Linked DNA regions of Homo sapiens. The protein of the gene in region 3 interacts with the protein of the main gene of each other region in a biochemical or structural test. Each region holds a gene or a part of one and is shown on either strand. Other genes may lie near its edges.

Region 1 (3,945 bases), on a different chromosome or scaffold from region 3:
TGTCTCTTGTTTCACTTCTGGAATCCCAGGGAAGGGAGAGTCCTGATCCTGGGAGACACCTGTGATTCAGTCAGCTGAGTCCAGGCCAGTGGGGTCGTGCTATGCAGCTGTGGCTGTGTGCGGCCTACCGGAGGGGGTGGGGAGGAGAGAAGGGGGTGCTGAAGGGAGCTGAGCAGATGCTCTGAATGGCTTCTCCCTGGAGACAGGTAGAAATGCAGCCCAGCTCTAATGATTGAATTGTCTCTGGAATGTCAGTCATGATGAATACATGTAATATGCATGCTTCCATACAGTCATACTTGTCTTGGTGTTTCCCCTCTACCCCTTCCATAATATTTGAAAAATAGGATTGAGGTTTGGAACCTGATCACCAAGATGTACATTTGGGTTTGATTGCTCTCCATTGTTAAAGTTTCTTTTTTGCTCTTGCCTTTTTCTGTGCAGAGGATGATGTGGACCTGGAAGCCCTGGTGAACGATATGAATGCATCCCTGGAGAGCCTGTACTCGGCCTGCAGCATGCAGTCAGACACGGTGCCCCTCCTGCAGAATGGCCAGCATGCCCGCAGCCAGCCTCGGGCTTCAGGCCCTCCTCGGTCCATCCAGCCACAGGTGTCCCCGAGGCAGAGGGTGCAGCGCTCCCAGCCTGTGCACATCCTCGCTGTCAGGTAGGTCCAGGCCTTATGGGCAGAGCCTTCTCCAAGGATGAGAGCTGTCGGCAGGGACACTGCTCTCTGTGAGTTAAATGGTGTTGGGGGGAATAGTGTTGGTCTTGCAAAGTCAAGAGGCAGATACATTGCTTTGATGGGATAACGGATACACTGAGTGTGTGCAGTGTGCCGCCCTTGGGTTGAACTTTGTAGCCAGTTCAATTCCAGTAGTACCTTTTATTGAGTGCCTGCTATGTGCAAGGCACTGTGCTAGGTAGAGGGATATGCAGGAAAACCACCAGAGGAAAAATCTCTGGAAAGATTGGAAGAACAGCCATGGAGCTGATTGCATGCCCCAAGTCCTCACTACCCAGAGTAGGGACGGGAGGCTAGCAGCTACAGCACCCCCTGGAGCTTGTCGTGCAACCCCAGACCTCCCTCAGAGTTGCATTTTGCCACATTCCTCTGCTAATTCAGGGGTAGGCACATCTCTGTGGAAACAGGGAGGCTGGAGGGAGGAACGTGCTGGGGACGTTGAGGGAGGTTCCTGGGAGGTAGGATTTCTGAACGGATGTCAAAGGGTGATAGGAGCTCAGATAGATGGAGGCAGAGGTTTTGTGAGCAGAAGAGATGATGCAGATGGGGGCCGGTGCTGAAGCACTTTGTGTGCCTTTTTCAGGAGCCACGTGAGAAAGAGTTCTGGACAGGCGTGTGAAGGGGCTGGGTTTGGGTTTTGACACCAGCATTCTGGTTGCCAGGGGTCGTGGGGGCAGTGGTAGAGGGCAGCAGGGTTGGCAGAGCATGGCCGGTTTGGAAGTGGTCTCAGGAGCCCCCGGATGGGAGATGATTGTGCGCTGCCTGAGGATGAAGAAGGAGGGGGGATTTGAGCACGTTGCTGAGGAGGAGCAGCTGCGTTTTGCCAGCACTTGAATTTTGCCAGGGCTGTGAGGAGACAGAGAGTGTGTGGAGGGTGACTTGGATTTTGTCTCGAGTGCCTGGGAGGAGGGTGTCTAGAGAATGGTCATGTCGAAGGTGAAGGTGCTGAGAGTACCTTAGACATTCTGAATGAAGATCTTTGTAGAATCAAGCTGAGAGCCAGGGGCAGCCCTCAAGGATCCGCCTGTCTGCCCTGTCGCAGTCGGGATGGCGTGGGGCTCCGTGGGACCCTGCGTGCCTCTCTGGGCCTTTGCGGAGGATGTACAGCCATCTCTGCTGGGACTGCCCCTTGCCCTCACTGGCCTCTGTCAGGATGGGGTTCTGGTGCCTTCTGTCTCAGCACCCCATCTTCCGGGGAGCTCTGTTCATTTCCTGGGCTCTTCTTGCTTCTAGAAACTTCTGAGAGTTTTCTTTGTGGTCTGACATCTTGGGTCTTCCGCAGCCCAGATAATCACCTTGCCCCAGGTGGCAGCTGTTTCTTACGGAGGGGAGAGGGTGCAGCGGCCCTGGCGCCCGTGGTCAGCTGCCTCCCCAGCTTCCCACCCCGGCTTCCCCTCCGACTTCTCACTTTTTGTCATATTCATTGATGCTGAATGATGCCTGTCCCAGGGTTTGTTCAACTTTGCTCTTTGAAGCGTGACCCCTTGTACTTAGCTCCTGAGGAGTTAAGTCTGGTGGGAGAGCTGTTTTTCTCTTGGGAGCATCTCTTGGGAGCATCACAGTAGCCTTGGGGAGTGCCTGGGAATATGGAGGTGCAGTTGCATGGCGAAGGTGCCCGAGGGTGGGCTGGAAAGCCAGAAGGCCTGCCTCCCTGCTGGAGTAGTTGCCCAGGACCCTTGAACCTCGAGTTCTGGCTGAACTCGCCCATATGTGCCCCGGGACTACCTGCGCTAAGTCCCTGGGATGGAGGGGCAGGCTTGCTCTGTGGGACAGCAAAGCCCTCTCCCTACAGGGTCACAGGTGCTGTTCCTTGGGCCCAATGTCTTCTCTCTGGTGTCCTCTCAGATAAGTAGTTTTGTTTCTTACTTTCAGGTGGATTAAAAAAAAATGTGGAGATCAATCTGGAATCACCAAAGATTATTTTGTGAAGTGAGGCCATTTGCTGAGTGCTTACTGTGTGCAGATGCTGATGAGCTCCTCCTTGTTATCAGTGCCCTCGGAGGGAGGCAGTGTGGGTTACCCTCGCTTCCCAGCTGAGGAAACCGTGGCACAGCGGGGCGGTAACTGGGCTCACCACATCAGGTGGGAAGTGGCCATGGAGCAGGCTGCTGGGTACCAGAGGTCACGGAGCATGGTCCACGCTGCAGAGGAACTTACCGGGGGCTGCCATGCAACCCGAAGGGAGCTGGGGGGCAGGCAGGGTATGGGCAGAGGAGACACTTGGGAAGGGCAAGAAGGCTTTGCACATAGGAAAGCCGATGGGTGAGCCGATTCTGTACAGAGAAGGAACCCAGGCTTTTGAGAGTGCAAGGGCCACGCATGTGTTCTAGACAAACACAAGTGAGCCAAGGCACAGAGAAGAAGGACCTCGCCCCTCAGCTCTGCAGTTCCTGCCACCATCCCTGACATCCCTAAATCTCAGCACCCCTCTCCATAGTCACTGTCCCTTCTATTGTGAGCCTCTTTGGTGGGGATTTTTTGTCTTTGTGTGATATCCCTTAGTCTTGCCTTAGGCGATGTCTCTGAGCCGCTTTAAAGTCAACACAGGACTTTTTAAAATGCTCAAAACAACCCAATAAATAGAGAAGCTTTTGTGGACACTAAAACGTCAGATTATCTTTTTGGGGTGAAGTCACTGGCTAGAAGCCGTGGATGGGAAAGTGGCACTGGCCACCCGTTTTATCCATCTCCTCCTGTATGACAATGGCCAGACGTTTCAGTTGGACGCCTTGCCAAGGCTGAAGCTGTTATGGGAAGAGTGGGATTTGTTCACAGTAAAAATAAACTTTATGGCATGTCATCAAACCATTATAGGAACGGCTTTCCTGTATTTCGCAGCACTGATTCCCTTCATGCCATGTGAGTTCTCGTAATTTTAAATCCATGCATCATTTGCTGGTCTACGTGGGATAGTTAGCTGGATCTTCCTTTAAAAAATAGGGAAAGTTGGTAAAAGAGAAAAAGTAATACAGTCACAAAATGTGTTTCTGTAGTGGCAAATCTCCTGGGAAAGCTAACGGATTGTTGATTTTGTGAAATCGTAAAAATTGTCAAAAAAATTACTTGAGGACACAGCCTATGATGGGGGTTTCTGAGGTATGTTTAAACATGGGGAGGGATTGGAAATGCCGAGTGAAGATAATGTGAGGTTTGCTCCCCTCTCCTTGAAGGTAGGAGGCTGCAGACAGGGCCGCGTGGCC
Region 2 (3,600 bases), on a different chromosome or scaffold from region 3:
CAGACATTGCAGTGAGCTGAGATCATGCCACTGCATTCCGGACTGGATGATAGAGTGAGACTGTCTTTTTTTAAAAAAAAAAAAAAAAAAAAAAAAAAAAATAGGTCGGGTGCAGTGGCTCACGCCTGTAATCCCAGCACTTTGGGAGGCCAAGGTGGGCGGATCACCTGAGGTCAGGAGTTCGAGATCAGCCTGACCAACATGACGAAACCCTGTCTCTACTAAAAATACAAAAATTAGCTGGGCATGGTGACAGGCACCTGTAATCCCAGCTATTCGGAAGGCTGAGACAGAAGAATCACTTGAACCCGGGAGGCAGAGGTTGTGAGCCAAAACTGCGCCACTGCACTCCAACCTGGGCAACAGAGCCAGACTCTGACTCAAAAAAAAAAAAACGGAATGAAATGGGATAGTCTCATGCAAAGTTGCCAAGGCAAGTGAAACTCTGTTTCCACACCTGTGGGGGTTTAAATGAGATAATAAATCCTTTTATTTTTAGGGAGTAAAGTGGGATGGCAAAGCGAGTGGAGACCTGGGATCAGGACTGTGCAAAAAACTTCAACTGTATGGGTTCTCACCACTACTGGTCACAGTGAGTGAAACCATTCCAGCACATACAATTCCCAGCCTCCTCCTTTCCACCATACGGAGGTTAGTGCTCAGCCACCCTTTTCCTGTGCTGGGTATATCTTACATGAAAATGCAGCTATTTTCAAAAAGAATAATTTCAACCTGCGAGAGAGTCAATAATTAGAGGTGACACTGCTCAATACTGGTGAATGAGCTTGGAGATGAGAAGGAATGTCTGTTCCCATCTCCTACAGGCATCAACTGTACCCCCATATATCCTAATTTCCTATTGGTTCCTTTGCCCCTAAAATCAGTGGAAAATGGCACTTAGTGAAAGAATGGGTAATACTGACTAATCATTGCTACGTATACTGATTAGCTGGAACCAAAGTGAGGCAGATCAAATTTGTGCCACCATCTAGAGAAGTTCAGAGTGAGCACTCCCTTGATCTTTACAGACAGCCTGTATCACAGGGAAAAACATTCCATAGCCACAAACCACATCCCTCAACAGTTTACTGCTAGGGAAAGCAAATCCCAAGTGCATTTACTATTAGTAGCAGATCGTGTGCATCATTTTCATATATAAATGAGAGCCCCCAGATGAAACAGACTTGAGCAGAGAACATGCTTTATTGAGGAGTAGATATAGAAGAGCACATTCTACCACATGTGGGGAAGGGTTTAGCTTCTGTAAAAGGCCTTTATCCCTTAAGAAAACCCCTAGTGAAGTTGCTTTTTGATAAATTTTAACAGTGACACTGAAACTGGAGGGGAGCTGCCACTGAACATGCTTAAAATTAGCTCCCCCAACCCACAGTGAATATAAGTAGTGTACAGAGATGACAAGAGAAAGGCACAAATGACCGGAGTCAGGGATTGTGGTGAGGGCTCCACATGAAGACAGCATGTTGGAGGAGACCAAGTTGGGAAGGGTGACATGTCATACATCAAAAGTTGCCCCAAGATAGCAGGTTATAATGGGCTAGAGAGAAATTAGAGGGAACATCTCTTCCTTCACTTGAACAACACCAAAAATAGAAGACCAGAGAATAGAAGGATGGTGACAAATCCCAAAAAGGAAATGGAGGAGGAGTTCGTGGAAGGGCAGAAGCACTTTAATCCTAGAGGGAGGGTGAGGCACTGTTGAAAAGAGAAGCAAACTTTGGCAGGGGTGGCCATTCTGCCTTGCTGAGTCATGGGCTGAGATACGGAAGTCACTTTCAATCATTTTCTACTTCTCCCAGGGCACTCAGACAAAATCAGTGCAAGGTATATGGAAGTACAGATGTACTGTATCAGACTAGTGGAGGTGAAAAGGTTTCTGCAGTATAATTAACCAGTTAATATGCAGCATGAAAGGGAAAAGTGGACATTACTTTGGCACCTGCAAACGTAAAAAGTGGGAGTAAAGAGAGAAGGAAATATTTACTAGTGAGTACTTTACGGTGAGGCAAAAAGTAGTATCCGTTCCCTTTCACCAAGACACTGCCCACTGCCCACTGCCCACAGGTGAACTCAAATCAAACCCAGAACCACCACCCCTTCATTCTTCTCTCCATCTCATTCAGATCAATTATATGCTATTACCATGACTAGTCCCTGGGAAACTCTTCAAAAGTATTTGGCTCTGGTTAGCCCAATACAGATCAAAAAGAGGTCTCTTAATCAAAATGAAGAAATTTAAAGCAAGATGGAACCCAAAGTGAATGGACCCCCTGCCAATCCACACACACTCACAAGTGCCACCTTTTCCCTGCCCCTCCATAGAACACACATATAAGGAGTAACTGGAAAGGTCCTGGTGGTGGCAGCCATATTTGGAGGTCTGGTGACCAGGTGGCAAGCACTAGTACCACGCTTAGAAGACACAACACAACCTCATGGGGCGAGAGGACATGAGGAGAGAACCAGTGACTGGACAGGTACAGTACCATAACAGAACTCCTTGGGTCAGTGCTGAGAGACCTGCACTCAAGTCTAATACAGATCCCATCCAGGCAACCTCACTGAGGCCGAAACAACAGTTCCTCAGAACCAGCGTCTGCAGTGTACACAAAGGTCGGAGCCAGGACAGTCCTGAGGGGGATGGCCTTCCCAAAGGATACTGTACTTGCCAATCACAAGAGCAACAGAGAAATGACAGACAGATCCCTAGGGTACGGATTCCTACTGCTGGGGTTCGCTGGCTCGGAATGACAGGTCACTTTAAGTGCCCTTGGGAGGGGTCCATTTTAAGCAGCTGGGATCCATGGTTTTATTGGAGTTGGACCTTTTGGCCTCTTTGGCTATCCACTCATCAATCAGGTCCTGAGGGAGAACAATGGGAAAAAGGATTACATACTTTCAACTCAAGTGCCTTTACATAGATTCCAAAATAACTAACCGCCAAGAAGGAATTGCCAAAGGTTTAACAACATATTAGGGTATCAAAAAAAATACTATATTTTGACTTATAAACTGCTTTCCTATCTAATCCATTCTTCCTACTTTACCCTCAGTGAGAAATGAAAATCATCGCTCACCGACCTTTATTGTATATATGAAATAATTTAAAAAATTAGATGTGAGTTTGAGTTGAGACAGCATTTGTGAAGATTCCTCTACAGATGGGCAATTTCCTCCCACCTAAGAAAAACATCAAATGACAGAAATGCTGTACAACATAAAGCTGCTTAACTGGAGCTGCTTAACTTGTGTCATCCAAATTTGAGACAGGAGCTTATCAAAACCTTCTGATAAGGATAAGGCAACACAGGCATCACTGCCAGCTACAGAAATGAGACCCAGTAAAAGGGGCGTGTAGCCCAACTCCTTTAAGGGAAGGTTCTCCAGTCTTAAGGCCCATACTTTGCTCTGCTAAGTCTTGAAGGACATCCAGCAATGAGCAAGCCCCTGATGAGAACCTTACCTGTCTCTTTAAAACTAGGTGTTTTCCCTTCCAGTATTTGAGCATCTGAAGGGCTTGCAGAGTGCTGACAATGTCCACAGGATTCACAGCCGTCTCCTGACTGATTTCTGAAACAGAAG
Region 3 (3,600 bases):
TATTTATTAGAATAAGAGATTAGATTTGTTAAACATCTAGGTTAAAATGGTTAAAAGGATTTTCATACAATTTTAGGCACTATACACGTTGTTTACAACAGCATTGGTACTTGGATATGGGGAAAGATAAATCCGACATTTTAATATCTTGATCAATTTGTGACATTCAAAATAATTCCATTTAAGAAACATTAATCAAAACTTAAAGAGACATACCACTAAGTATCCCACACAGTATACTGAAAATAAATATAGAAATACAACCAGAAGTCTACAGATCACCACAGTAGACAGACTGGTGAAGCCCCAGCTATCATGGCAGTGAAGGGCTCTGGCTAGATTTGGATGTCAACTGCTGAGTTCTACATGAAAAGCAAATAATAATAATAAAATAACATGATGTACACTCTCTGATGCTCATTTTCATAGCAGCAAAGCATGCTTCACATGCACTGCCTGTGAAGGATCTCACAAGGCTCCCTCCTAGAGAGAAAGTATGCCCAGCAAGAATAAAGTACCACCAAATGTCAAAGAATCCCGAAAATACAGGCAGACAGCCAGTCATGGAGCAGGAACAGCAGTGCAATTGTAAGAATGACTACCCACATTCACCAAAATTTCACTGTAATTCAGCCTGGCACAGGTTTTGATCATCAGCATACACACAAATAGCCCCAAGCACAAAGCCAATCCACTTAGGGGAACAATAATAGTAATAAGAATAAAGACAGTAATATTAAAAATGACAAGAGTAGAATCTTGGCACATGCTGTGTTCTTCATCCTTTGTCACAGGTGAAATGCACATCTGAACAGAGACAGGCATGGGAAGGAGGCCCAAAAGCGACATGGCAAACCACCGGGCAGGGGACTCGCTCTTTGTTGCTTCCCAAACACTTAGACGCCAGCAGCATGGGTTGGTGTGCTGGGCTGGTTAAGGCCGATGGTGGAGCAGAGCCAACCTGCAAAATCCACTTCCTCAGCATCAGATCTCTTGATAAAAGCATGAACCTGCATGTAAGGAAACGAGAGGACGTGGTGTTAAAAAGAAACAAAAAAACAAAACCCACCAGGAAGGAAAATCCAAGAGTTTCAGGTCTAGAGCTTGTGCTGCACTTGGAAAGAGCACCTGGCACCTGCCCCTGAGCAACAGTGGGGCCAGCTGCAGGCCCAAAGACCTGCTCCACCAGTCACAGCAGCTGTGAGGCCTTGGGCAAGTCACCTCTTGGAGCCTACTCGTGCAGTATGGAGACAGTAACTCTGCCTTAAATGCCTCACAGGCTTGTTAGAAGGGACAAAGAAAATGATGGACTTAGTGCATATTATATACTATATACACCGTCTATGGCTGTCCAGATATTTACAGTATTACTTAGCTATTTCCACTGCCACCAAACGAGACAGCAGGCGGAGAGTGACTCTGGAAGGAGGCTGAATGTAAGATGAGGCAGTCAGTATTAGGGAAAGGCCGCATCCCCATGAAGGGGGTGGGCTGGCCTTTTCTTTCCCATGGCCCCCTCAGGCATTTCCTCTGGCATATGCTTACTCAGGCTGCGGGGGTCACCCCAGCTTTCCCTTAAACTGATGGGAGAGCAAAGGAGACTGGTGTTTGGTATTCTGCAGCCCCAGGCTCAGCTGGACCACAGTGGGCAGGGAATGAATGGGCTCTGGAAGTACTGCACAGATGACTGACAGAGAAGAACAAATGAATAAACAGGTACTGTAAGAATCCGGAATAAATAGACTCACCATGAGTTGCTTCAAATCTGCTCTCTCTGCGGGGTTTTTTATTAAGCTTAAAGGAAGAAAGACAAGGTAAGAGCTGTTGCCTGGCACTGGTTCTAGCTCAAATAACATGTTTGCATGCCTGTCTTCTCTGCACACTAGAGGCCGAGGATTGCCTGGGCTTGATTCATCCTCCTGTTCTAAGCACAGTATCATGCCCACAGTAAGTTAATACATTCTTGCTGAGTTAAACTAAGGTCAAAAAGCAACGTGCCAATCCCTGGAGAGCAAGTACCAAAAGGAGCAGCTACTACATCCATGATGTAGTTAGACATGCCACATAAGTCTTGGCACTCTAAAAAAGGGCTTATGGCAGCAGCCAAGAATCATCAGACGGGAGGGTAAAGGGCAAAACTCTGCCTGCAGAAGCAATGCTGGTGCTTCCAGAAATGGGGTGGGGAGCCTGACAAATCCAGAGTATACGCTTCCAGAGAACAAGGAGCCAACTTACCATTTATTCACAAAATCTTGAAATTCCAGACTGAACACTCCACTGGGCAGTTTTGGAGGAGGCTGCAAACACATGTTGAGATAAGAAAAATGCCTGGCTCCTTGCTCCAGCCATCTCCTCTCCCCATCCCACCCCTCCCACCAGCCAGTGCTACTTTTTTTTAAAGTCTTCTCTGCAGTCCAAAGGCAGTACTACTCTCATCCAGTCAAGGAAAGGCACAGGTAGAAGGCCAGTGCTGCCTGTTGGGTAACCATGTTGGAACCACTGATCTCAAATAGCACATTTAGAATTGGGACCAAGTCAAGTCCACTCACTTGTCGGGTGATTTTGAACTAATCACTATTCCTCTATGAGCCTCAGTTTACTCTTCTATGACATGAAGAGGTTGGGCCTAATGATCTCAGGGACCCTTTCAAGCTCTGACACTCTACAATGGTAAATCTTGGAGTGCGGCATGGGAACGTAACCAGCAATTTACTGGCAGCAACAGCTAGGGGCACGTGCAAACCACCAGGCATAGCCCAGGTCTGACAGCACCTGCAGAAGCAAACCGGTTTTTAAAAATCCCTTTTCTGAGCCCTAGAGAAGCAGTGAAAAGTTAATAAAACATTAACTGACAGAGGGCTGGATCTGGAAGAATGTTACCTGTACATTCCAGAAATGAGGCTGTTTTCAGATTTTCCCATGGTGATCATGCAGCACTATACAGTACAAGGCTCTGGAGCACTGGGCTCATGGCGTTCCATGCAGTCCAGGAAATGTGGGCCCACTTATGTACCTGGGCTGGGAGCTGTGTGTACCCATGCTGACCCACAGACATAATGTCCATGATGTCACTGCTCTGATGTACAGCCCAAAATCTCGTTTTTAATTTGGGACTAAAAATGAGACACTGATCCCCACCACAAAGCCCAACCTAGTGCTCTTCCTTTGAGGGCCATGTCAGTCTGATCTTAGGTGAGGACTAGAACTCAGCTCTTAGAACAGTGACCCAGAGCAAGCCCCATTCTGCAGACTGTCCCCACTGCTGAGGGAATCAAGGGACCATTCAAGGAAGAGAGGAGACCAGCAGCTTGGCCTCCAGAGGCAGCATCCATTCCTTCTGAACAGGAAAGAGCTAGGCAGCAGAGGGGCTGTGTGCCAGCAGAGGCTGCAGTAGAACAACTGCCATGCAGCCAAGCCTCCTAGGAGGTAAGAATGGGAGGTGGGAGGTGGCAAGGAAGAAAGAGCACTGGGTGGGAAGGACCTGGGCTACTTTTCATCTCGGAGGCTCAATTTCCTCACCTGTTTGAAGAGGAACCAATTTGGCCTACCTCAGCAATGCTTGGGAGAATTGCATGGGAAATTAATGTGAAAATTTGGAAG

The links.
Region 1: the proteins of MAP2K1 (region 3) and GRB10 form a complex in vitro, tested with the Homo sapiens proteins (one study listed by BioGRID).
Region 2: of the proteins of MAP2K1 (region 3) and KAT7, one has a biochemical effect on the other in vitro, tested with the Homo sapiens proteins (one study listed by BioGRID).

Annotation. Positions count from the first base shown.
Region 1 is NC_000007.14:50,671,158-50,675,102, reverse strand, and holds part of GRB10 (growth factor receptor-bound protein 10), read left to right. Parts: intron 1-444; coding exon 445-667; intron 668-3,945.
Region 2 is NC_000017.11:49,826,681-49,830,280, reverse strand, and holds part of KAT7 (histone acetyltransferase KAT7), read right to left. Parts: intron 3,589-3,600; coding exon 3,482-3,588; intron 2,881-3,481; coding exon 2,779-2,880; 3' UTR 1-2,778. UniProt on the Homo sapiens protein: Catalytic subunit of histone acetyltransferase HBO1 complexes, which specifically mediate acetylation of histone H3 at 'Lys-14' (H3K14ac), thereby regulating various processes, such as gene transcription, protein ubiquitination, immune regulation, stem cell pluripotent and self-renewal maintenance and embryonic development.
Region 3 is NC_000015.10:66,487,912-66,491,511, reverse strand, and holds part of MAP2K1 (dual specificity mitogen-activated protein kinase kinase 1), read right to left. Parts: intron 2,298-3,600; coding exon 2,236-2,297; intron 1,795-2,235; coding exon 1,749-1,794; exon of another isoform or gene 1,011-1,748; coding exon 897-1,010; 3' UTR 1-896. UniProt on the Homo sapiens protein: Dual specificity protein kinase which acts as an essential component of the MAP kinase signal transduction pathway.